Linked DNA regions of Homo sapiens. The protein of the gene in region 7 purifies or fractionates together with the protein of the main gene of each other region. This does not show direct contact. Each region holds a gene or a part of one and is shown on either strand. Other genes may lie near its edges. The genes, in order: FHIP2B, GCN1, UGGT2, CALU, XPOT, SPCS2 and SLC27A4.

The links.
Region 1: the proteins of SLC27A4 (region 7) and FHIP2B purify together in Homo sapiens (affinity purification with mass spectrometry; one large-scale study listed by BioGRID and IntAct). This does not show direct contact.
Region 2: the proteins of SLC27A4 (region 7) and GCN1 purify together in Homo sapiens (affinity purification with mass spectrometry; one large-scale study listed by BioGRID and IntAct). This does not show direct contact.
Region 3: the proteins of SLC27A4 (region 7) and UGGT2 purify together in Homo sapiens (affinity purification with mass spectrometry; one large-scale study listed by BioGRID and IntAct). This does not show direct contact.
Region 4: the proteins of SLC27A4 (region 7) and CALU purify together in Homo sapiens (affinity purification with mass spectrometry; one large-scale study listed by BioGRID and IntAct). This does not show direct contact.
Region 5: the proteins of SLC27A4 (region 7) and XPOT purify together in Homo sapiens (affinity purification with mass spectrometry; one large-scale study listed by BioGRID and IntAct). This does not show direct contact.
Region 6: the proteins of SLC27A4 (region 7) and SPCS2 purify together in Homo sapiens (affinity purification with mass spectrometry; one large-scale study listed by BioGRID and IntAct). This does not show direct contact.

What each region holds. Positions count from the first base shown.
Region 1 is NC_000008.11:22,099,150-22,102,280, reverse strand, and holds part of FHIP2B (FHF complex subunit HOOK-interacting protein 2B), read right to left. Parts: intron 2,998-3,131; coding exon 2,921-2,997; intron 2,578-2,920; coding exon 2,388-2,577; intron 1,688-2,387; coding exon 1,542-1,687; intron 1,438-1,541; coding exon 1,309-1,437; intron 842-1,308; coding exon 751-841; intron 574-750; coding exon 430-573; intron 306-429; coding exon of another isoform or gene 267-305; exon of another isoform or gene 219-266; intron 137-218; coding exon of another isoform or gene 107-136; coding exon 1-106. UniProt on the Homo sapiens protein: Able to activate MAPK/ERK and TGFB signaling pathways. May regulate the activity of genes involved in intestinal barrier function and immunoprotective inflammation. May play a role in cell proliferation.
Region 2 is NC_000012.12:120,128,716-120,132,215, reverse strand, and holds part of GCN1 (stalled ribosome sensor GCN1), read left to right. Parts: intron 1-193; coding exon 194-290; intron 291-882; coding exon 883-1,031; intron 1,032-1,462; coding exon 1,463-1,570; intron 1,571-2,721; coding exon 2,722-2,940; intron 2,941-3,500. UniProt on the Homo sapiens protein: Ribosome collision sensor that plays a key role in the RNF14-RNF25 translation quality control pathway, a pathway that takes place when a ribosome has stalled during translation, and which promotes ubiquitination and degradation of translation factors on stalled ribosomes.
Region 3 is NC_000013.11:95,854,402-95,857,901, reverse strand, and holds part of UGGT2 (UDP-glucose:glycoprotein glucosyltransferase 2 precursor), read left to right. Parts: intron 1-1,561; coding exon 1,562-1,744; intron 1,745-3,426; coding exon 3,427-3,500. UniProt on the Homo sapiens protein: Recognizes glycoproteins with minor folding defects. Reglucosylates single N-glycans near the misfolded part of the protein, thus providing quality control for protein folding in the endoplasmic reticulum.
Region 4 is NC_000007.14:128,742,359-128,745,858, forward strand, and holds part of CALU (calumenin isoform a precursor), read left to right. Parts: intron 1-3,500. UniProt on the Homo sapiens protein: Involved in regulation of vitamin K-dependent carboxylation of multiple N-terminal glutamate residues. Seems to inhibit gamma-carboxylase GGCX. Binds 7 calcium ions with a low affinity.
Region 5 is NC_000012.12:64,403,083-64,407,191, reverse strand, and holds the start of XPOT (exportin-T), read right to left. Parts: upstream 2,801-4,109; 5' UTR 2,388-2,800; exon of another isoform or gene 1,432-2,387; intron 1-1,431. UniProt on the Homo sapiens protein: Mediates the nuclear export of aminoacylated tRNAs. In the nucleus binds to tRNA and to the GTPase Ran in its active GTP-bound form. Docking of this trimeric complex to the nuclear pore complex (NPC) is mediated through binding to nucleoporins.
Region 6 is NC_000011.10:74,955,766-74,959,265, forward strand, and holds part of SPCS2 (signal peptidase complex subunit 2), read left to right. Parts: intron 1-3,500. UniProt on the Homo sapiens protein: Component of the signal peptidase complex (SPC) which catalyzes the cleavage of N-terminal signal sequences from nascent proteins as they are translocated into the lumen of the endoplasmic reticulum.
Region 7 is NC_000009.12:128,357,527-128,359,748, reverse strand, and holds part of SLC27A4 (long-chain fatty acid transport protein 4), read right to left. Parts: intron 1-2,222. UniProt on the Homo sapiens protein: Mediates the levels of long-chain fatty acids (LCFA) in the cell by facilitating their transport across cell membranes. Appears to be the principal fatty acid transporter in small intestinal enterocytes.

The DNA.
Region 1 (3,131 bases), on a different chromosome or scaffold from region 7:
GGGCCAGGCTGATGTACGGATCCAGCAGGTACTCATGAATATGGGGGTGGGGGAAGAGGGCAAGCCGGGACAGGACCGAGGTCACCTGCAGGTTCAGGCTGTATGGCTGTAGGAACATGGTGGACAGAGCCGAGGGCTGGCAGGGCTGGTGAGTATTTTTGCACTCCCCCAGCAAGGTGCCTGGCCACTGTGAACGTGTGTGGGGGTGGGAGGCTCACGTGATGTGTGTGTGTCATGGATTCCATGGGGCTGAGGGCCAGAACGTGTTAGGACGTGTGGAGCAGGGGTGAGACGGGGCTTCCCACCTGGGGAAAGGACAGGGGTGGCACCAAAGAACCGAAGCAGAGGCAACCCTGTGGCCAACCTCTGCTCTTGAAGGACCCCAGAGGCACCAGCCTGGAGTTCTCCTGGCCCAGGCCCACTAGCTACCTGATCCAGAATCCGGGACATGCGGTCAAACAGCACTCGGAGGAAGTGGCCCTCGAAGAAAGGTCGCTCGGGCTCATGGGGGTCCAAAGGTGTGGGGGTCAGAGGCCAGCCCCAGGAGGCGACGCGGGAGCTGCACTCCTGGAACTGAGACAGGCGGGAAAGTAGAGGCAGTGGGCCTGGGGACTGGGAACCAGCAGACAGGGCCCCACGCAGGAGGGATGGGCTGGGGTCCTTGGGCAGATGAGAGAGGCGGAACCCAGAGCTTATGACCCAGCTGTTCTGAAGGACAGGAAGTGGGAGCTGGTAGCAGGAGCCACTCACCAGGCCATAAGCATCGTGGACGTATGTGTCATAGCCTGTCTCCTCCAGGAAGGCAGAGGTCTTGGCTTCCTCGGGGACCAGGCACAGGAAACTGAGAGATAGAAGCCGGTGTGGAGGCGCTCCCGGCTCACCCTGCTCTCCCCTGCTTGTGGGACCCCATCTCCCTCCCTGACTGGACCCCAGGGCTGTGGCCAAAGAGTAAAACTCAGGGCAGGCACGGTGGCTCATGTCTGTAATCCCAGCACTTTGGGAGGCTGAGGTGGGCGGATCACCTGAGGTCAGGAGTTCGAGACCTGCCTGGCCAACATGGGGAAACCCAGTCTCTACTAAAACTATAAAAATTAGCTGGGTGTGGTGGTGCATGTCTGTAATCCCAGGTACTCGGGAGGCTGAGGCACAGGAATCGCTTGGATCCGGAACCCGGGAGGTGGAGGTTGCAGTGAGCCGAGATTGTACCACTGCACTCCATCCTGGGTGACGGAGCGAGACTCTATCTCAAAAAATAAAATAAAATAAAATAAAACTCAAGTGGTTCAGACTGCCTAACTTGCTCCCCACCTGTTGACGATCTCGGTCACTGCTGTTTTGCCATCGTAACTGGTAGCAGGAGCTAGGCGAGGCTTTGCGGGAGTTTGAAAGCCGGAATCCAGGAAGCTGTCGGTGAAGTAGGGGTCTTCCTCCAGGTCTCTGTGGCCAGGGCAGAGCAGTACGGCACCAGTGAATGAATGGACAGAGTGAGCGTGCGAGTGCTAAGGGCTGGGCTGAGTCCAAAGGGCGCCGGTTTCACTTACAGGGTGTCCTCATAGCTCTCAGGCTCTGGTGAGCCCCAGGCCACGTAAGGGCGGCCCTCAAGGTTGCGCAGGACCAGGCTGTGGATGATCCCCTCGTGGGGCTTCTGCAGCAGCTCCTCAAACAGCCGGAGTGTGGTGATGCTGATCTGGAGCAGGAAGGGGGTCGGCAGGATAGCCCCTTCCCCACCCAGCTCCCAGGGGTGCCTTGGCATGGCTAACCCAGATAAGAAAAGACCTCTGAGGCAGAGTCACCTCCCTTGGCTGGATGCTAAGGTGGCAGGTTTTGGGGGTAGTTGGGGGGTGTGGGCCTAGGAATCCAGAAGTCTGGGTGGTCCCTGGTATGTGACTAATTTGATGTGCAATTTCAGGCAAGCCAATTCGCTTCTCCGTGCCTTACTTTCCATGTCTGAGAAATGGGAGTATCAACCTCGCCTACCTCACGAAGTAGTACGTGTTAGCCTTCCAGCGAGCCAAGTGTGCAAAATATAAAATACTGTAAAAAAATAAGCTGGGAACAGTGGCTCATGCCTGCAGTCCCAGCACTTTAGGAGGCTGAGGTGAGAGGATCGCTTGAGGCCAGGAGTTGGAGACTGCAGTGAGTTATGATCACACCTCTGCACTCCAGGGCCTGGGTGATAGAGCAATACCCTGTCTCTTTAAAAAAAAAAAAAAAAAGTATATGATCATAGAAAATTAGTGTGTGATAAAAGTGGCTCGGCAGTGTTTTGCAGTTCAGTGTCTCAAAGGTGGAGTCAACTGGGAACACTAATGAAATGGGAAGAGTGTTCAGGAAATCCCTCTGGCAGGGGTGGTGAGAGGAACAGAGATGGAGGTCCCCCACTGTACCTCATCAGAGAGGTGGTCACAATGCCCGATGAGATGAGCATACAGGGTGTGGGGGTTGTCCCCGGGGGCTTCAGGCTGCCGGTCTGTGCCCAGGAGGAAAGCCACGGCCTCCCGCAGCAGCGCAGGGGAGCGAAGCTGGCGCAGCATGGCTGTGAGGAGGGCGGTGGAGGTCAAGATGCTCTGCTCGGACCTACGGGAAGAGGGCACCTTAGCCAGGCCCGGTGTGTGCAGACAGCACATGAGTGCGGGTGGCCGAACCCTTCCTGCTTGCCTCGCATGTTTGGCTGGTATGTCTGTGGTCACTTGCCCATCCCTGCTGAGGTCCTGCAGGGAAGGGTAGGAGGCCTTCGTTTAGCCCACGTAGCTCAGAGCCACGTGCACATCATGGGGCAGGCCTGGCAAACATCACCCAATGGGGTCCACAAATGGGATTCTGGTCAAGAAGGTGTCTGGCCTTAGGGACAGGACGAGGCTGGGTGGGGTAGGTGGTTTACTGTAGACCACAGTCATGCCTGAGGGAACTAGACACTTACACGTGCAGGAGCTGGGGCTGCAGGGTCTCCACGAAGAAGTTCTCAGCCACAGCCTTCGCCAAGGCGTCCGCAACCACCTGGGTGCCAGAGAGCGCCAATGTGTTTTGCCCTCATTACAATTCCAGCTGAGAAATAACCGTGTTCTTGCGCGGCGCCTGATGCCACAGGAGAGGGTCCCGGCCCGCCTGGGGCCCCGCTTAGCTCCTGGACC
Region 2 (3,500 bases), on a different chromosome or scaffold from region 7:
CTCCATACCAGTGGCAGCCCAATCTGGCAGGGGAGCACGAGTGCCTACAGGAAGGACTGGATCTTGAGTCTCTGAGTTGGCTTTTCCACCTTCTTTGTTGCTGTCCATCCTGGGCTCTAGAGCTGCCTGCCTTGGTTCCCACACAGCTGGTGTTGTTCCCTGCACCCCCTCACTCCCTTCTCTTCCCTGTCAGGACAACACTCGCATCTCCTCAGCCGGGTGCCTAGGGGAACTGTGTGCCTTTTTGACTGAAGAGGAGCTTAGTGCCGTTCTACAGCAGTGCTTGCTGGGTAAGTACACTGGAGAGTTCCCCTTCAGGGACCTGGGCCTCTCAGCCCTAGCGAAGAGTCGACGGGCATCTCCCTCCCTCCCTCAGAGGATCTTTTAGCAACTGGACTGTCCTTTCCTTGGGAATCCAGCAGTTAAAGCAAAATCCAGGCCAGGGGTGGTGGCACTCACCTGTAGTCCCAGCTACTCAGGAGGCTGAGGTGGGAGGATCAGTTGAGCCCAAGAGTTGAAGGTTGCAGTGAGCCTTGATCACGCCCCTGCACTCTAGCCTGGGCGACAGAGCGAGGCCCTGTCTCTAAAACAAACAAACAATACTGAATTTGCAGTGGTCCCGTAGCCCTGAGTGTCTCTGCTCAAAGAACACAGCTGTAAGCCCGGAGTGGTTCATGAGCAGGCTTTCCTTACTTTCCTTAATGTGCCACTTTGGGGAGCTTCTGCCAAGATAGCAGGGAGGTCCATGTGAATGTGGCCTGGAGTTTTCCTTGTGCTCTGGGTCAGCACACTGGTCTCCAGCGGGGTGGGCCCATGGGCCTCATGGGTGCTGGGGACATGCTGTAAAATACCGGTTGATCCCAGTCGTGTCCTTCCACCCAGCGGACGTGTCCGGCATTGACTGGATGGTTCGGCACGGGCGGAGCCTGGCACTTTCCGTGGCTGTGAATGTGGCTCCTGGCAGACTTTGTGCCGGCAGATATAGCAGTGATGTTCAGGAAATGATCCTGAGCAGTGCCACGGCGGACAGGGTAAGGCATTCGGGCCATATCCCATAGGCATAGGCCACATCCCATAGGCAGCACCTTGTGGACACAGCGCGGGTGGACCCCAGACTGGGGCTTAAGAAGCTTGGGTCTAATTTTACCTTTGTCAGTAACTTGCTGTGCCCTTGGACCAGCACTTGATCCCTTTGGGCCCCAGTTTCATCATCTAAACAAGGAATTTGGGTTGAAGAATCTAGATGCCCCTTCTGGGTCAGGTCTTGGATCCCTGTTCCTGGGAACCAGTGACTGTACTCATCTGCCTCAGCCGGGGCAGCCTGCCTGAGAGCTGTCATGGTGTAAGGGGTGATGTGGTGGTGATGTAGTGGAGGGTCCTGGAGATTACTAGGAACTGGGGTTTTCCTGGCTCTGGGGAAGGGGTGGGGGGCCTCCCGTCTAGCGCTGTCTGTTCTCCACAGATCCCCATTGCGGTGAGCGGGGTCCGGGGCATGGGCTTTCTCATGAGACACCACATCGAGACAGGCGGAGGGCAGTTGCCGGCCAAACTTTCCAGCCTGTTCGTTAAGGTGAGTGGGGGCCAAGCATGTGTTTAAGCCCTAACACCTGGCTTGTGAGGAGGTCCTAGGATCAGAGACCACCAGCAGTGCGCCCTCAACTAGTTGTGTGCTAGTTCTCCGTGGACGGCCTCCAGGAGATCGCTGAACACTTAGGGATGGAATGTAGGGGGTTTCTGTGTGTGCTTTACACTGCAATAAAGCCTAACTTTTTGTCAGATTCTCAAATTGACCCGTGACTCTGAATCAAGTTAGGAATCGCTATTTTAGGCATTCTTTCTAGGCACCGTAGTTTTGTAAAATTAGATACAGACCTGGGTTCCCATCTTAATACCTCTCTTTTCCCTCCTTCCTCTTCTAGTTGGCCCAGCACTTCTTGGTGTGGTTACTGTGCTATGTGCCAGGCCCTAGTTAGGAAAGCCAAGGAATGTGCCAGCAGGGCTCCTGTGGCCCGTGTGATATGGCGTGCTTCTGAAGCATTACTGTGCACAGAAGTCAGAGCCAGGGTGTATTTTAGTGAGATGGGGCCATGCCTGGTACTCTAACCAGCTCTCAGCAACAGTGTCAGTGGTGCTGTGCATGGACCTTGCCTTGAGTAATGAGGTTCCCAAGAGTGACTGCCTCCCCCCGCAGCACCGGGAACCCACGGAGTTTCTGAGGGGCCTGATTCGATTGAGCCTCGTCTGTGATGACATCAGCCTGCACCCGCTTGTTCACTTGGCATTATCCTGAAGGTGTAGAGATGAACAAGGCAGACAGGATCCCTGGAGCCCATGGGGAGGACCCTGATATAGATAAGATTGGCAGGGGGCACCTCTAAAGGATGACATGGGAGCTGAGACCTGCAGGATGGGAAGGAACTAACCTAGAGAGGATCCGGGGCAAGCACGGCCCAAGCTGTGGGACCAGCCAGGGCAGAGGCCCGAGGCCCTGGGATGTTGGAGGAAGTAAAAACGCATGCGGGCTGAGAGTAGTGAGCAAGGGGAGAGTGGCATGAGATGAGGGTGCAGGAAACCAGGGTCGAGTCATGCTGGGACCCTCCCACAGGAGCAGGGGGGGTCAGTGTTCATGCTGTAGGGAGAGTGTCGAGGCTGGGCATTTGGGCTGCTTCAAGGAATAGATGACATGCCTATCCAAAAGCCTGTTTGTGGTTCTTTTTACAGTGTCTGCAGAACCCATCCAGCGACATCAGGCTGGTGGCTGAGAAGATGATCTGGTGGGCAAATAAGGACCCACTGCCTCCCCTGGACCCCCAGGCCATCAAGCCCATCCTGAAGGCTCTTCTTGACAACACCAAGGATAAGAACACCGTGGTCAGGGCCTACAGCGACCAGGCAATTGTCAACCTCCTCAAGATGCGGCAGGGTGAAGAGGTGTTTCAGGTGGGAGCCTGGGGGGCCTCACCAGGATGTGCTGTGAGCATTTGTCTTTCAGCTCTTCTTCAGCATGGAAATATTTAAACCACAGGCTCTTCTCTGCCACCACGGATGTGCTAGCTTTCAGGAGCAGATTAAGATTTGGGTGACTGGGGCCGGGCGCGGTGGCTCGCGCCTGTAATCCCAGCACTTTGGGAGGCTGAGGCGGGCAGATCACCAAGTCAGGAGATGAAGGCTAACACGGTGAAACCCCGTCTCTACTAAAAATACAAAAAAATTAGCCAGGCGTGGTGGGCGGCTTTGTCCCAGCTACTCAGGAGGCTGAGGCAGGAGAATGGCGTGAACCCAGGAGACGGAGGTTGCAGTGAGCTGAGATCATGCCACTGCACTCCAGCCTGGGCGACAGAGTGAGACTCCGTCTCAAAAAAAAAAAAAAAAAAAAAAGATTTGGGTGACTGGCCCAGTACCTGAAAACATACATTCCCATGGTTTTCAGACTTCTTTCCGAGCAGGGCCCTTTCTTCAAATAAAATCTCACATGACACCCAAACAGACATAGCAGATCC
Region 3 (3,500 bases), on a different chromosome or scaffold from region 7:
TTTAACCCAAATAAACTGAGATAGAAAAATCTAAAGATTCTCTTAGCAGGAAAAGATATTATTCACCAGAACAATAGTGCTATGTCTGGATTAGAAAGTCTTGTTCCACTGCATGGCCAAAAGAAATACTGTATCTGAAGTAGTATTTTCCTTCTTTTTGTGATGTGTTTCTTTCATTCAAAATTTTTCTTTTGAAAACTTCTTAGTGAAATATAACATATACTCAGAAAAGTGCACAAATCATGAAATTTAGCTTTGGATTTTTACAAACTCAAACATCTGTGTAAATCAGCAGCCAGATACAGAAGCCGCTAGCTACTTTAGATTTGTTCCTACCAGTTTAGAAAAGTCAAACCTCCTCTCTTCATTCAAATATTTGCTAAAATTATACATACTTACACATAATTATTTTCTGACAGCACTATACAAACTATAATTCCCTCTCCCTTTTAATTTTTCTTCATAGCACTTTTTTCTGTAGATAATAGTTTATTTCTACCTACTTCCTCTAAAATACAAGCCTCATGAAGGTCATAATTTGTATTTCTTTTGTTCACTAATGTACCCTTAGATCCTAGAACAGTGCCCGTTTCAGTGAATATTTGGACACATATTTAATGAAGAAAAAATATTCTTTTTATTTTATCTGAATGTTTTATTTTATTTTATTTTGAAACCAAAACAATGACTCCTGGCAGCTGTTGTACCCCTAATTTCAAGATTTCACAGATAAAATTGGTGCTTCTTGCATTTAAAAAAAAGTATTTTAAATCTACATTGTTCTTACAAAGTCAGAGAAAAAAATTAAACATATAACCAGAAACTAGTTTCAAGTAAGAATCAAGTGGTAAAACGCAAATTCTATATTTATTAATTCATCTTTTCCAATTCCTTTTTCATTTTCTCTCTCAGTATTTGAGCTCTTGAACTAAATTTAGCCCACAGTATATTTCATTAACTGCTTCTGCTTTAAACAGGGAATAAGCTACTTCTAAGCCTATAAGATACTCAAATATGAAATATTCAGACCATAATCACTACTTTGTATTTTTAATCCTTGAATTAAATAATGATATATCTCAAACATGAAGCTCCTGTATAGAATCTAATTTATCAGCTTAGAACTTATTTTGTGTTTTTTGTATCCTCTCTTCATCTTTACATCTCTGACCAACCAACCTGTTGACATATACATGAACTATTTGATATGTAGGTGTTCCAAGATCCAGAGGCTTTTTTTTAAGTCAGTTTTCTCAAGTCAGATGTTAACAATAAAAGTATGGGAACATTTATCTTCCATTAATAAGTTTGTTAAATAATATAGTGCACTTATTTTTAATGACGTTAAATTATATAGTTTTATTTATACTTGTGATTTCATATTTGTTAGCATTTTAATATTTCTCATTAATAAGTATGTTATAGAAGTAGTATTTAGACATCTTGCCTATTAGTTTATAACAATTTATAGGAAGCTTTACCTTTTTAATGTTATTTTTTTCTCTAAAACAAAACTACTTTCTCTTGAACATATTGTTTGATTTTGTGTGTGTGTTTTTAGGAAGTAATTCCTCACATGGCTAAAGAGTATGGATTCCGATATGAACTAGTTCAATATAGGTGGCCCCGTTGGCTTCGTCAACAGACTGAAAGACAGAGGATTATTTGGGGTTACAAAATTCTTTTCCTTGATGTTCTTTTCCCACTAGCAGTGGACAAAATCATTTTTGTTGATGCTGACCAGGTAATAAGGTTAACTACTATTTTTAGTAATACGCAAACATTTTTTACACTTCTATCTTAATATAGAGATTAATTCATGTTGCTCATGTTTATTATCTTCATTACGGTGCTTAAGATACGATTGTGATATATAAGCAAAGTATCTTTAAAAACAAAAAGTCAGAATTCCAGGGGAAAATTGAAGGTATTGTAAGAAGTACCATTTATTATTTAGGACATGGAAGTTTTCTCTCTAAAGTAGTAGTTTTTTACATTTGAGAACTAAAACAAATACTTATATTAGTCATAATAAGAGTAGTTAATGAATTCCTGTAAATTATGTGCTGATATTTGTTTAAAACTAGGAATTTCTTCTTGCTAGAAAAGCTAGCAGTTACATACAACTCTCATTCTTCCACCTTCAACAGCATTCTTTCGCATTCAACCAATAACCAAATTCTCATCACTCTATCTCTTAAGGAAAAGAGCATTTTAAATTTGGCCAGCTTATGCCTGTAGTCTCAGCACTTTTGGAGGCTGAGGTGGGGAGGAAAGTTTGAGCCCAGGAGTTAGAAGTCACAGTGAGATATAATCATGCCACTGCACTCCAGCCTGAGTGAAAGAGTGAGACCCTATCTCTAAAAATAAAAGCAAATAAATTTGGCCAAAAAAAAAAAAAAAACACCCAAGGCCCTCTGCTTTCAAAATTTATATGTCCAAAAATTATGACTTTTCCTTTTTCCCTCCTTGCATTGCTTTTGCATCATTAGTGGGAAAAAAAAATTGAAAATACACAGAATTTCTAAGAAAAAAGTAATATGTAAATGAAAATATAAAGTAAATGGATAAGTTAGAATTTATGTGGAACAAAAAGTATATTTCAATTTCTTTTAAGAGACAGGGTCTCACTCTGTCATCCAGGCTGGAGTGCAGTGGCACAGTCATAGCTTACTGTAGCCTCAGACTCCTGCATTCGAGCCATCCTCCCACCTCAGCATCCTAGGAGCTGGAACTCCAGGTGCACACCACCACGCCTGGCTAATTTTTTTTTTTTTTTTTTTTTTTTTTTTTTTACAGACAGGGTCTCACTGTGTTGCCCAGGCTGGTCTCAAACTTCTGGCCTCAAGCAATCCTCCCATCTGAGCCCCACACATAATATCTAATATGATTCTTTCTCCTACCTTTCTTTCAATGTGTGCACTAATATTTTTCTAGAAGGCTTGAGCATATTAAAAAATAACATTTATATTATTTTATTCAAGCTATTTAGAATAATTGGGAGATTTTTCTTTATGATTCAAACTTAACATTTGCCAATATACAATAATGGAGATTTGGCATGGAATGATTTTGTTATTCATACATTGAGAAACTAAGAGCTCTGCACTTACGTAATATTTAACCCCTTCCCCAAATGTCTGATTCGTAAAATGACTTGTTTATAAATGACATAACAAAATATTCTTGTTGGTGAGTAAGACCACTGTCTTAAAGACTAGGAATATAAATTTTAGTTTACCTTTAACCTGTAAGGACAAGAGGAATAAATGTTAAATTCAGTAAATTCATATTACATGAAAGCACTGTGAGGACAATACAGCTCTTTGGATTTCTGTAGTAGAGTAATAATGATTTGAGATTCCCATAAAAAAGGGCTTATGTTATTTTACAGTCTTTATCAGACAGTCTATTTTAATTATTTAGATTGTGAGACATGATCTAAAAGAACTTCGAGATTTCGATCTGGATGGAGCTCCTTATGGGTATACTCCATTTTG
Region 4 (3,500 bases), on a different chromosome or scaffold from region 7:
TTCTGGTGAATATCCATCCAGCTCAGAGAACTGGAATTTTACTACCACACCCATTTCTCCCAATTGTTAACATTGAGCAATGGGTCTTTGGTCAACCATAATAACTGTTGGATCACTCAGTGTTAACGTTCTTGTGAAGTTGAATTTAAACATCTAAATTTCCCTGAAACAATTTAAGTATTCTGTGACCAATGGCACTTTACCAAAATTGAAAGTTTGGGCCATGTATTGCTCGCAATACTGGTCCAATGGATACACTATGGACACTAAGGACAAAAACTTCCTTGAAAGCTCTAAGTTCTTACCTGAAGGGTGGGGTAGGGAGAAGTGATAAGAATTTAGAGCTTTTAAGGACATTTTTGGATGGATCGAAGAAACCAATTCTTAAGACTCATTATTATTAAAATCACACTTAACCCAGTTAGGCTTTTCTCTTTATAAATTACTGGAACGATTCATGAAAACAACTTTATAGAAGACCATTATTGGTGACATACTAATACTACAAAAGGATGATAGCTACTGGATATATTTTCTGTTCTAATCTTTTGGTTTGTGTCTAACATGCTGTCCAATAAAAATATAATACAAGCCACATATGTAATTTTAAATTTTCAGGTGAAAATCTAAAACAGGTGAAAGTAATTTTAATAATGTTTAATCTAATACATATAAAATACCATTCTTTCAATATGAAATGTAACACTTATACCAATCGCAATTCACACTAGCCACATTTCAAGTGCTTAGTAGTCACATGTGGCTAGTGGCTACTGTACTGGGCAGTACAGGCCTAGATTTTTTTTTTTTCCCAAGAAAAAAATATTAGATGTTACCCTTCGTGGAAGAGGGACAGAATTTTAGAGAGAGAAACTCATTTGAGAAATGGGAGGTGGGGAAATTCAGTTTTCACAACCATTGGTTTACTTTCTAGATCACATGATAAAAGCTCATACAGCTAAGTCTTTTGTTTATGTGTATCATATTTTTCCTAATATTATGTTGTCCATTATGTCCATAGTATATCCATTGGACCAGTATTGTGATCAGTATGTATGGCCCAATGGATACACAAAGATCTTTCCAGCTGGAAGTGATCTGTACCTATTCCTCTAAACTTTTTTTTTACTTTTTGGACAAAAGTATCCAATTTAAACTTTTTTTTTTCTTTTTCTTTTTTTGAGACAGGGTCTTGTTCCCTCACCAAGGCTGGAGTGTGGTGGCATGATCATGACTCACTGTAACCTCGTGTCTCCGGGGCTCAGGCGATCCTCCCACTTCAGCTTCCCCGGTAGCTGGGACTATAGCTGCGCCACCACACCCAGCTAATTTTTTGTATTTTTGGTGGAGATGGGATTGCCTAGGCTGGTCTTGAACACCAGCATTCCATCCGCCTTGGCCCTCCAAAGTGCTGGGATTACAGGCTTGAGCCACTGCTGCTGGCCCAGTCTAAACTTTTATAAAGTGTTGAAGTGGGTGAGGAAAATGAGAAGGGCCATTAACTTTGTATCATTTGGTTTCAATTTGGTTGAAAAGACAAAGATGCTTCAGAAATGAAGTGTACTGGCTGGTCATGGTAGCTCACACCTGTAATCCCGACACTTTGGGAGGCCGAGACGGGAGAATCACTTGAGGTCAGGAGTTTGAGACCAACCTGGACAACATGGTGAAACCCTGTATCTACTAAAAATACAAAAATTATTCGGGCGTGGTAGACCATGCCTGTAATCCCAGCTATTGAGGAGGCTGAGGCAGGAGAATCACTTGAACCCAGGAGGTGGAGGTTGCAGTGAGCCAAGATCACACCACTGCACTCCATCCTGGGCAACAGAGACAGACTCAGTCTCAACAAAAGAAAACGAAGTGCACTAAAGTAGATTTTCAAATGCTGTGTATGAAGTTATTTTTTACTGTTCCTTTCACATCTTCCCACGTAAGATATCCTTTGTCTTAGATGTCCTTTGTTTCTGCTTGAACATACATGCTCCATACCAAAAACCATATGGTTTTAGATAAATCTAGTACAGTTTTTGGTATGGATGGTGTTTTTTGTTTTTAGTGTCTATATTCATAAAACAAGAGGGCTTTGTTAAAGTTTCTAATAGCCAGGAGTTGTTATATATGTGGGCACAAAGGACGTTTTGTTTTTTTTTAAGTAGAACTTCTTTAAAGTGCAGATTTTTCATTCCTCCCTGCAGAAAGATAAAGAAGTAAAGATGGACCATTGGCTTTGTCCATCTGGGTCCTTGATGACCGTTGTAGGCAGTTTCATCAATAGTAAGGAAGCCAGGTTTCAGGGTAGCATTGGACAGTGAGGAAGCAGAGGCAGCAGGGTAGAAACTGTGGGTGAGGGAAAGGGAGGAGCAAGCATGAAGGAACAGCACAGTCTGGGAAAGACTGTGGGTAGTGGAGACCTGAGAAGCACTGATTGACAGAATGGAGGAGCCTGTTTAAGGGATGAGATTGAAAGTTTATTCAGGAGAGGGGAAGGAAGGAGAAATGGGTGAGTGATAAAGCTAAATCACTTGGCTTCTACTCTTTGGAATTCTGGTATCCTTGTATCAAGATATTAAGCCTGAAACATAAATGTAGTTTTCCCTCTAAATCACAGAGTAAACCAATCTATTACATTTCTGTATGCTACATGTCTCAAAACTTGGTACAGTATCCTTTCCAGGACCAGATTATGTTAGAGTGCATAAGTATTTATTCATATTGTAATATTTGGGGTTGGCAAGAATTGTTAGGGTATTATGCTATATTTTATTTTGAGAATGTAATCATTTGTAAAATTTTCCTAAAGATAAAGTCCCCTTAGGCATAAGGAAAATCCTTTGTTGCAGTGACTCTTGATTTTACTTGATTCTGCAAGCCTCTGTCACTATACATATTGTTGGGATATATCCCAAAACATCAACAACATATAATTCTGTTTTTTGTTTCCAAAGTTTTGTTTATCTAAAGAATTATTTGTTTATAGGCTGGGTATGGTGGCTTACGACTGTAATCCCAGCACTTTGGGAGGCCAGGGCTGGAGGATCGCTTGAGACCAGTCTGGGCAACATAGTGAGACTCTACAACATTTTTTTTTTTTTAATTTGCTGTGCATGGTGGTACACACTTGTATTCCCAGCTACTTGGGAGGCTGAAGTGGGAGGATGGTCTGAGCCCCAGAGGACCAGACTGCAGTGAGCTATCATCACACCACTATATCTAGCCTGGGTGACAGAGTAAGACCCTGTCTCAAAAAAAGAATTGTTTATAGTTTGAGATAGAAGTTTCATTTTGCCCTGAAGTAAAGGCATACTCACTTTAATGTTGTATTTATAGAGCCGCTAAATCTCGGATTTTCTGTTTACTCTTTAACTGATTTGATTGATCAGTTGAATTATTGGAGGGTCAGCCAGAGTGTTGTTCACCCAGAGCAATATTTTACAAGTGGTGCACACAGAAAGCTAATAAACATGAGAGTGTGCTGTTCATACAAATTAGACAGTACA
Region 5 (4,109 bases), on a different chromosome or scaffold from region 7:
AAGGGCAAGGACTGTCTTGACTATCCATCACTATGTCCCTAGGACATAGTAGAGCATAGGTTTTGGATTTCAAAGACCTGGGTTTGTATCCCCATCTTGTCATTTTTTAATTGGGGCCACTTGGACAACTTACAAAACCTGAGAGAACCCTTTCTATGACATGGGAAAAAGACCATATGCCTCATAAAGTTGTAAAGGCTTCAAAGAGATAAGGTATGCAGAGCATGGCTGGCACATAGTGAGCCCTCAATACGTTGTTTATAGTCAGAGGTAGGAACATGTGGAATGGAAACGACTTGGGGCATTCTTATACCAGATCAGCATTTTTAAAAGACAGAAAAACACAAAGAAAGGCACTGGTTCCCTTCGCCCCCTAAATGTTAAGAAAATCTGATGTCCATTCCCCTGAAAAATGCCCACAGAGAGAAAAAACGATTTCGGAGTTTCTAAGAATCCCTGATTGAGAAGTCCAATAAAAGCTTCCTTGAATTTGCTATGGCTTTTTAAAAAAATGCTGGCCAGGCAGGGTGGCTCACGCCTATAATCCCAGCACTAAGGAAGGCCGAGGGGAGGGGGGCGCAGATCAACTGAGGTCGGGAGTTCGAGACCAGCCTGACCAACATGGAGAAACCCCGTCTCTACTAAAAATACAAAAATTAGCCGGGTGTGGTGGCACATGCCTGCAATCCCAGCTATTCGGGAGGCTGAGGCAGGAGAATCGCTTGAACCCGGGAGGCGGAGGTTGCAGTGAGCTGAGATGGCGCCACCGCACTCCAGCCTGGTCAACGAGAGCGAAACTCCATCTAAAAAAAATTGCTGGCTGGGCACGGTGGCTCACGCCTGTAATCCCAGCATTTTGGGAGGCCGAGGTGGGCGGATCACGAGGTCAGGAGTTCGAGACCAGCCTGACCAACACGGTGAAACGCCGTCTCTACTAAAAATACAAAAATTAGCTGGGCATGGTGGCCTGCGCCTGTAATCCCAGCTACCCAGGAGGCTGAGGCAGAAGACTCGCATGAACCCGGGAGGGGGAGGTTGCAGTGAGCGGAGATCGTGTCATTGCACTCCCGCCTGGGCGACAGAGTGAGACACTGTGTCAAAAAAAAGAAAAAGTGCTTAAGCTTGGTCAAGTCACTCTGAAGCTATCGGGAGAAAAATGAAGTGGCCCTAAGGAAAACATAGCCAATAAACCCAAGGAAACAAACTAGTTAACAGTTGTCACTACAGAAAGAATCCCCCACATAGAAGGCATTTGGACGATCAATATGCAGTGGAAGGCCGGGCGCGGTGGCTCACGCCTGTAATCCCAGCACTTTGGGAGGCTGAGGCGGGCGGATCGCGAGGTCAAGAGATCGAGACCATCCTGGCTAACACGGTGAAACTCCATCTCTACGAAAAATACAAAAAGTAGCCAGGTGTGGCGGGGCGCACCTGTAATAGAGCTACTCGGGAGGCTGAGGCTGCAGAATCACTTGAACCTGGGAGGCAGAGGTTGCAGTGAGCCGAGATGGCACCACTGCACTGCAGCCTGGGCGACCGAGCGAGACTCCGTCTCAAAACAACAACAACAAAACCCCAAAAAATGTTTCAATACGGTAAACAATTATGCATCTTGCAAAGGTTCTTGGGGGAAGGCAAGCAACATACTTAAAATATTAAGCCTTAACTTTTCCTGGATAGCCATTAAGAATCAAACAATTTGGAAAAATTCCTCTACACCTACTGAAGACTGTTTCAAATACTACGACTGAATCTTTCCAGCCTTTTAACACCACGCTGACAAGTCGGTTTAATAAAACGTAACTCTCCCCCAACCCCCGCCCGCCACAACTAATTAGCACTTTCAAAAAGTACTCGTTTTTCTGGTTACAGGGAAACCTCATGCTTCTCTAGTCCTGCAGGATGGTGAGGAAGGTTTGAGAAGAAATGGAGCGTCCGTGCTGGCCAATTACTGCACAGAAATAACACTTTTCCTTTTTGTCCAGGGGTGGGGGAAGAATCAAGTTTGAGGTCTCCACAGTTGATAACGCTACAACGATGACTAACGGGCTTCGGAACCACAGGCGATGCCGACCCTCCTCTGCTAGCCTTGCTCCCATCCCTCCCCCGATCCCTCCCCTAAAGGAAGCCTCGTGGCAATTCGGGTGATGAAACACCAAGCAACCGCCGGCCACGCACTCGGGACGCGCTCCTCGGCGGCGGCCCCGGCTCGTACCCACCCCCACCCGGTCCGCCCAGCCAGGGGGTGCACCGCCATAGAGGGTCCCAAGCCTGCACCCTCCCTGGCGTCGGGACTCCCCCGGGCCGGTCCGCCCCGGCCAACTTCCTCGAAGCCTCACGCGGACCAAACCTGGTCCCGGTCCCGCTGCCCCCGAGCCCCGAGTCACCTTCCCTATCACTCCATCCCGCCTCCCAGCCTGCACTCCAGATGGTCAGCCAGCGGAGCGGAGCGGCGCGGCACGCAGAGAGCTGGGAGAGCGGCCCTCGTCCTTGTCGCCGTAGTCCTCCGCCACGGCCGCAGCTACAACGCCAGAGACGGTGCTGGCCGGGACCGCGCGCCTCTAGTCGCTCTGCGTCCCCTGGCACCTTCTCTTGCGTGGCGCCGGGCAGGCAGGCAGGCAGGCAAGCAAGCAAGCAAGCAAGCGGGCGGGGTCGGCGCCCCAGGAAGGGAAAGAGCGCGAGGGCCGGCTAACGCCGCCGCCGCCGCCGCAGCCGCCGCCGCCGCTGAGTCAGCGCGAAGCGCGCTCCCCGCGTCGGTGCCGCGCGGGCGGGCGCCGGCGCCAGCAGTCTCTTGGAGAGTGCGGGCGGCAGCCCGCGGGCTGACGCCGGAGGCCTACAACTCCCAGCATGCAGGGAGCGGCCGGCGCTTCCGGGCGGCGAGGCGCACACGCGCTCCCTGGCGCTCGCCGGAAGGCGTGGTCACCGGGGCTTGAGGTGCATGCCGGGATGAGGCATCCGGCCCAGGAGTCCCTACCCAGCTCCTAAATCCCCGGCTGTGTCTGCGTGGTGTCAGAGCTCAAGCGTCAGGTTCGCCCCGAGCATTCCACAAAGGGCTTCTAGTAGTTGAGAGTACGGATTCACGAATCAGGATGACGTGGTTCTAACCACGTGTGAGTCAATTTAATTGCTTGTCTACGGCCCCAAGTGTCCCGAGTACAGCAGTGTAAAGCTCTGATGAGTGCTGACAGGTTTTCAAAATTAATTAATTAATTTATTTATTTATTCTTTGAGACGGAGTCTCGCTCTGTCGCCCAGGATGGGGTGCAATGGCGAGATCTTGGCTCACTGCAACCTCCGCCTCCGGGGTTCAAGCAGTTCTCCTGCATCAGCCTCCTGAGTAGCTGGGATGACAGGCGCGCGCCACCATACCCAGCTAATTTTTGTATTTTTCGTAGAGACAGGGTTGCACCATGTTGGACAGGCTGATCTCGAACTCCTGACCTCAAGTGATCACCTGCCTCGGCCTCCCAAAGTACTGGGATTACAGGCGTGAGCCACGGTGTCCGGTCCAAAATTTATTTTAAACAGACTAAAATTTTGTCCATGAAAAGAAGGAGAGCATTCTTAGGAAGTCCTACTCACGGGATCTTTCGATGCTACTAAATGTCACTTCATTTATTTGGTCACAGATTTATTAATTTATTAATGCAACATAGAGGCAGTGTAGGCTTAGGCTGCCTCGACTTGACTGCCACTCCGCCTCCTCACTAGTTGACCTCAGGCACTTTACTTTAGTCTATCCATGCTTCAGTTTACTCGTATGTAAAATGGGGATTGTTAATAGTACCGACCTCAAAGGGTTTCTGTGAGGTTTGAGTTAATACATGTGTTTGACACACAATGTGCTCAATATTTACATTTCATTGTTGATTATTCAATGTGTACTAAATACAGACTAGGTTGCTGCCACAGACTACAAACAAAACTTGGAGAGGGAGGAATGGTAAGAGCATAGAATAAAACTAATGTTTTAACAGCTACCTTTATTTAGCTGTCCAAGACACTACACCAGGCATTTCCTATATAAAATACCTTGAATCACTCTTGCATCATGTTTCTAATTTATGTGTTTAAAATGTCAGGCTAGTGGCTACAAGATGTCGCTAAAG
Region 6 (3,500 bases), on a different chromosome or scaffold from region 7:
TTATTTCTTTAAACTATATGTCATGTAACACAGTGGTATCACAGACACTGATTACTTTAATACTATTACTTTAATTACTAATTAAAATATATATATATATATATATATATATATATATATATCTGCCTGCCTAGGTACCTTTTTCAGCTGTTGCTAGCACCATTTCTCTGCTCTGATCTCCATCTTATCAAATTTCAATAGTAGTTTTTTATATTACTTAGCCTTTCAGTAGCATTTGACTTATTGATCACTTCTTTTTTCTTGAAATACTTTCTTTACTTGGCTTCTAGGACACCACTTGCCCCCAGCTTTCCTCCTACGTCAACTAGTCTTTGTTGTCTTCATTGTTCTTTGGTCTTCTTCCTGACCTGTGTAAATATTGCCAGTCCCTGAGCTTATGAGCTTATTACCCCTGGCCCTCTCCTCTGTCTACCCTCATCCCAAGGTGATACCCAATGTCATGACTTAAATAACATGTAGAAGTTGCTGACTTCTACATTTATATTCTCAACCTGGACCTTTCCTATAAGTCCCAGACTTTTCTGTCCAACCGCCTACTTGTCATCTCCACTTAAATGTCTAAAACATGTATCAGGCATCAATAGCCAGAGCCAATCTCTTGATTTCCGCTTACCCCTCAAAGTGCTTCTCTCCCAGTCTTCTTCATTTCAGGTAGATACCTCCATTCATCTAATTTATTCAAACAAAAACCTGAGAGTTACCCTTGATTCTTCTCTTTGCTTTGTACTCCACAGCCATCTCATTGTCGTATTTTCCTGGCTGTACATCCAGAATCTGACCACTCCTACCTAGAGAGCTGTAGTAGCCCTTTCAACTGGTCTTCCAGCTTCCGTGCTTGGCTCCGTTACATTTTGTTCTCCACACAGCAGCCAGACTGATGTTTTAAAACATAGATCACTCACTCTCTTGCTGAATCTCTCCAGTAACTTCCCATCTCAGTTAGCTAAACTCCAAATCCCTAATTGTGGCCTATTTTATAGCCCCTGCATGTTCTTGATCCTGCTTGTTTCTGTCATCCTCATCTGTCAGTTTCTGCTTGAGTCATTATACTCTGGAAACCCTGGCTTTTCTGCTGTTCCTCAAACACGTTAAGCTTGGGGGATTTTGGTGTACTGTTTTCACTGGGACACTCCAGATTTTCTCATGGGTTACTCCTTTATTCAACTCTGCTCAGATGTTAACTATTTTCCCTCACTATTTTTTAGTCTTTTTAAAAACTCTATTGCATTTTTCTGTATAATCTTTTTTAGAGCCTGGAATTATATGCGTATTTGTTTACTTTTTATCTTCCATACAAGAAGAAGCTCTTTGAGTGCAGAATTTGTCTTGTTTATGACTATATCCCTAGTGGCTAGAACAGTGCTTGGCACATAGCAAGCAGCCATTCAATATTAATTTAAAGAAAATAAAGAGTGTAATTGCCATAAAGGTTGTGTTTAAAAATATTATTTTTTTCTTTTAAAAGAATGTCCAACACTGGAATGAATTGCTATTGAGAGGCTTGGCAGTTTCCTTAAAAAGAAAAAGAAACCCAGAAAAGTCATATAACAGTTAATATTTTTCCAGGCAGTAGGAGATGGATTTCAGATGAAACGGCTGTATGGTCCTCTCCCTGAATTTGCACTCAGCTGCATTTTTCAGAACTGATTGCATGTAATTCTTAAATGGAGCACGTGATCTGCCACCTTTCTAGAATAAGGACTCATCGCACATCTGTATCAATGTAGTACATTCCTAGCCAGTCTTCGTGCCTTAATTCAGGTCTTCCTTGGCAGCATCCCTCTCTCTTCCAACCCTCCCCAGTCAGCTTTGCTGCAGATTGATATCCCTGAGGAAATAGGTAACATTTTATCCAAAATCTTTTTTGCAGATCCTTGAACTTGTAGTGTGCCCTTGCCCCTCTATGTCTACTTCTTACCATTTAGCACTTAGCATAGTTTATAATTCATTGTAAGTATAGGATTTTCCTTAACTAAATTGTAAAGACCATTTTTTTTGTATATCTGATTTCTTGTCTACCCATTGCAAAGGTAAGAAATTCATACTGGATGATTATGCCAACAATTCAGTCAGACTTTAGAAGATGTTAGTTGCTAGTAGTGAAAGGATTGTTGACTACATTTCAGTTTGCTGGTAGAAAAAAATACTTCGTTGTTGGAGCATTACTGATTAATATGCTGAATCAAGTTGTTTTAACTTTAAGCTCTTTTCAGCCTTAGATCTCACACTTACTGGGTTCAGTGGTGGGATGTTTAAGTCATGGATCCAGTGATCTGGCCCTCAAAGAGCTTCAGTCATGTAGGCTTCTCTATTCATGGGCTGGGTTGATGTAGAAGCAGCCCCGTCACTGCTAAATGCAGTTTGTGGTGGAGTAGAGAAGGCAGTGTAAAACCTAAGAATCAGTTTCTCTGGGGTTGTCACTAATGTGTGTGCTCATAATTTAATTAACACATGGTAATTTCCTAACTTCTAACTCCAGTGATGAATGCAGTCAGTAATAAGCACTGTTAAGCTAGTAATTTTCTTTGCAGTGTATCTTGGCCATTTTTATAAAAAATAGATTGAAATTGAAGATTCAGTGTGTTGCTAAGAGCATAATCTCTTTGAGATACCATGTTTTTGCTGAATTGGGATCTAAATTAGATGACAGTGCACATTCTTAAGATAGACATCATTTTCTTCCCAAACTGAACATTTTCCTTTCTTGCTAAATATGTGTGTGTGGGGGGGATATAGGCACTATATATTTCCAACTGAAATTGTAATCTCAGCTTCTGAGTTTGCCATCAGTTTTTATTATCTCCTTATTTTAGTTTAGAACTCCACATATACAAATGGGTATTTATCCTTTTTCCTCCTGTATTCTTCTTCTTGGAAAATGACATGATGGCTCCAACAAGTCATCCAAGCCCTAATTCTAGTAGGTGGTCATCTCTGTCTCTTCTCTTTCATGTTCCTTATAACTAGTCTGTTACTAAGTCCTGCCAATTCTACCTCAGAATACTCCCTTTCAGTCCCCCTACTGCTGCTCTGTTGAGCATTGAGGCTCTGCACTTACATCAGGCCCCATCTGCATCTCTATGTCCAGTGTTACTCCCCTCCAGATCATCTGCCAGGTTGCCACTAAAATGACTTAAAAAAAAAACGTAAATTTGATTGTTATTCCCATGCTTAAAATACTCTCCATTGCCTGCTTCAGAATAAAGTTCAAGTTCTTTAGCCTAATAACTAGGAAATGGTTTCTCTCGGATGCCTCATCTCCTACTACTTTCCCCCTTTGCAGCTTCTGTCTACTTTCTAAACTGGGATAAAGGAGAGAAAAAGTTTATTTTTCTTAAAGCCATGCTCAGTTCTGTCTAAATCAGAACAGGGTCACCATTGACACCACTCTCACCCTTGGTAATTCTTCATCTCTCCAGTGTGAATTGAGGAATCCTTTGAGTCTTATTATCAAGCCAGGGAACTTTATGAAGCAATCC
Region 7 (2,222 bases):
ACTGCAACCTCCACCTGCCGACCTCAAGTGATCCTCCTACCTCAGCCTCCCAAGTAGCCAGGACTATAGGTGTGCACCACTGTGCCTGGCTAAGTTTTGTAATTCTTTCTTTCTTTCTTTATTGGAGACGGAGTCCTGCACTGTCACCGGGGCTGGAATGCAGTGGCACGATCTTGGCTCACTGCAACCTCGGCCTCCCGGGTTCAGGCGATTCTCCTGCCTCAGCCTCCCAAGTAGCTGGGATTACAGGCACCCACCACCACGCCCAGCTAATTTTTTGTATTTTTAGTAGAGACGGGGTTTCACCATGTTGGTCAGGCTGGTCTCGAACTCCTGATCTCAGATGATCCACCCTCCTCGACCTCCCAAAGTGCTGGGATTACAGGCGTGGGCCACTGCGCCTGGCCAAGTTTTGTATTTCTTGTAGAGATGGGGTTTCGCCATGTTGCCCACCCAGATCTTGAACTCCTGGGCTCAAGCGAGCTACCTGCCTCAGCCTCCCAAAGTGCTAGGATTACAAACATGAGCTGCCACGCCTGGCCGCATCTTTCAATCAATGGTATTAATCCTGTACAGATGAGAAGACTGATGCTCAGGGTGGTAGAACTGGGATTGGAACCTGGATGAGACAGACTACCAAAAATGGCTGCAGATTCCTCCCCTCCCTGTACACACACACCTCTGCTATGTGGCTTTGGCACTTCTCCTGGCAAGAGCTCGACTTTTTCAATCTCCATTGGCCTCAATCTGGACTGGCTTTACAACTTGCTTTAACCAACAGAAGGTGGCAAAAGCAATGTTGTAGGAGTTCTGGGTGAGTCTAGGCCTCGGGGGACCTTGCATCTTCCACCTCTACCTGCTTGGGGGTGCCCTGGGGCTAGTCTAGCCTTCCAAAGGGTGAGAGGCCACGTGGAGCAGAGATGAGCCATCCCAGGTGAGGGCCCAGACCGGCGCCGTCCAATATGACCTCATGTGGCTATTTACATTTAAATTATTAAACAAGGCCAGGCATGGTGGCTCACGCCTGTAATCCCGGCACTTTGGGAGGCCAGGGTGGGCGGATCACCTGAGGTCAGGAGTTCGAGACCAGCCTGGCCAACATGGCAAAACCCCATGTCTAATAAAAAAAATACAAAAATTAGCCAGGTGTGGTGGCACGTGCCTGTAATCCCAGCTACTGGGGACGCTGAGACAGGAGAATCACTTGAACCCAGGAGGCAAAGGTTGCAGTGAGCTGAGATTGCACCACTGCACTCCGGCCTGGGCGATAGAGCAAGACTCCATCTCAAATAAATAAATAAATTTAAGTTAATTAAACAAAATTTAATCCCAAAGTGTTGGGATTACAGGCGTGAGCCACGGCGTCCAGCCAGCAGCCACCTTTCAAGTGCTCAGTAGCTCTGCCAGGCTAGTGGCTACTGTGTTGGACAGCAGAAACCTAGAACATTTCCATCGCTGCAGAAAGTTCTGTTGGACAGTGCTGCAGAGGTAAGCAGCCGAGAGCCAGACACGTGGGTGAGGCCATCTAACTGCCTCTTGCCCCAGCTAAGTTACTAAGTGATGACCCCAAAGCAAGGTCAATAGAAGAACTGCTCAGCTGCACTTAACCCCTAAATTGCTTACCCACAGAATTATGCATCAATAAACTGGTTGTTTCGAGCCATTTTGGGGCAAGTAAGTTTGGGGGTGGTTTGTTCTGCAGCAAAGCCCATCTGAAATACAAGGTCTGAGAGCCTCCCTGCCTTTCCTGGACAGAAGTATGGTGCTGCTCAATCCTCCGGAAGCTCATGGTCTTGGCCATTAGCCTGGCCACAGTGTCTCCAACCTTCAGAACCACACTGAAGTCCTAAACCCTCCCCGATGCTTTAGGCACTCCAGGTACCCACTCTCTGGCAGAAGCCACATTGGCTAGGGAGTGCCCACCATCAAGGCAGGACTGATATGACGACAACGTGGGAGGTGGCCAGGGAAATGTGCTCCAAAGGGTGAGCAGCCAGGGAGGGCCCAGAAGAGGCACCAAGGGCTGAGGAAAGCAGGGGCAGGTATGGGCATGAGCCTCAGCATTTCCTGCCCACCAGGGAACTCTTGAGAGCCACCAATGGGCCAACAGATAGAAAGATGGTGCTGCCTTGTGGGCGACTGCGGGCCCGCTGCCCACCTCCCACCTGGACAACTGCAACAGCCCCTCCCTCGTCTCCCAGCTCCCTCAGGGCTGCCTGCAA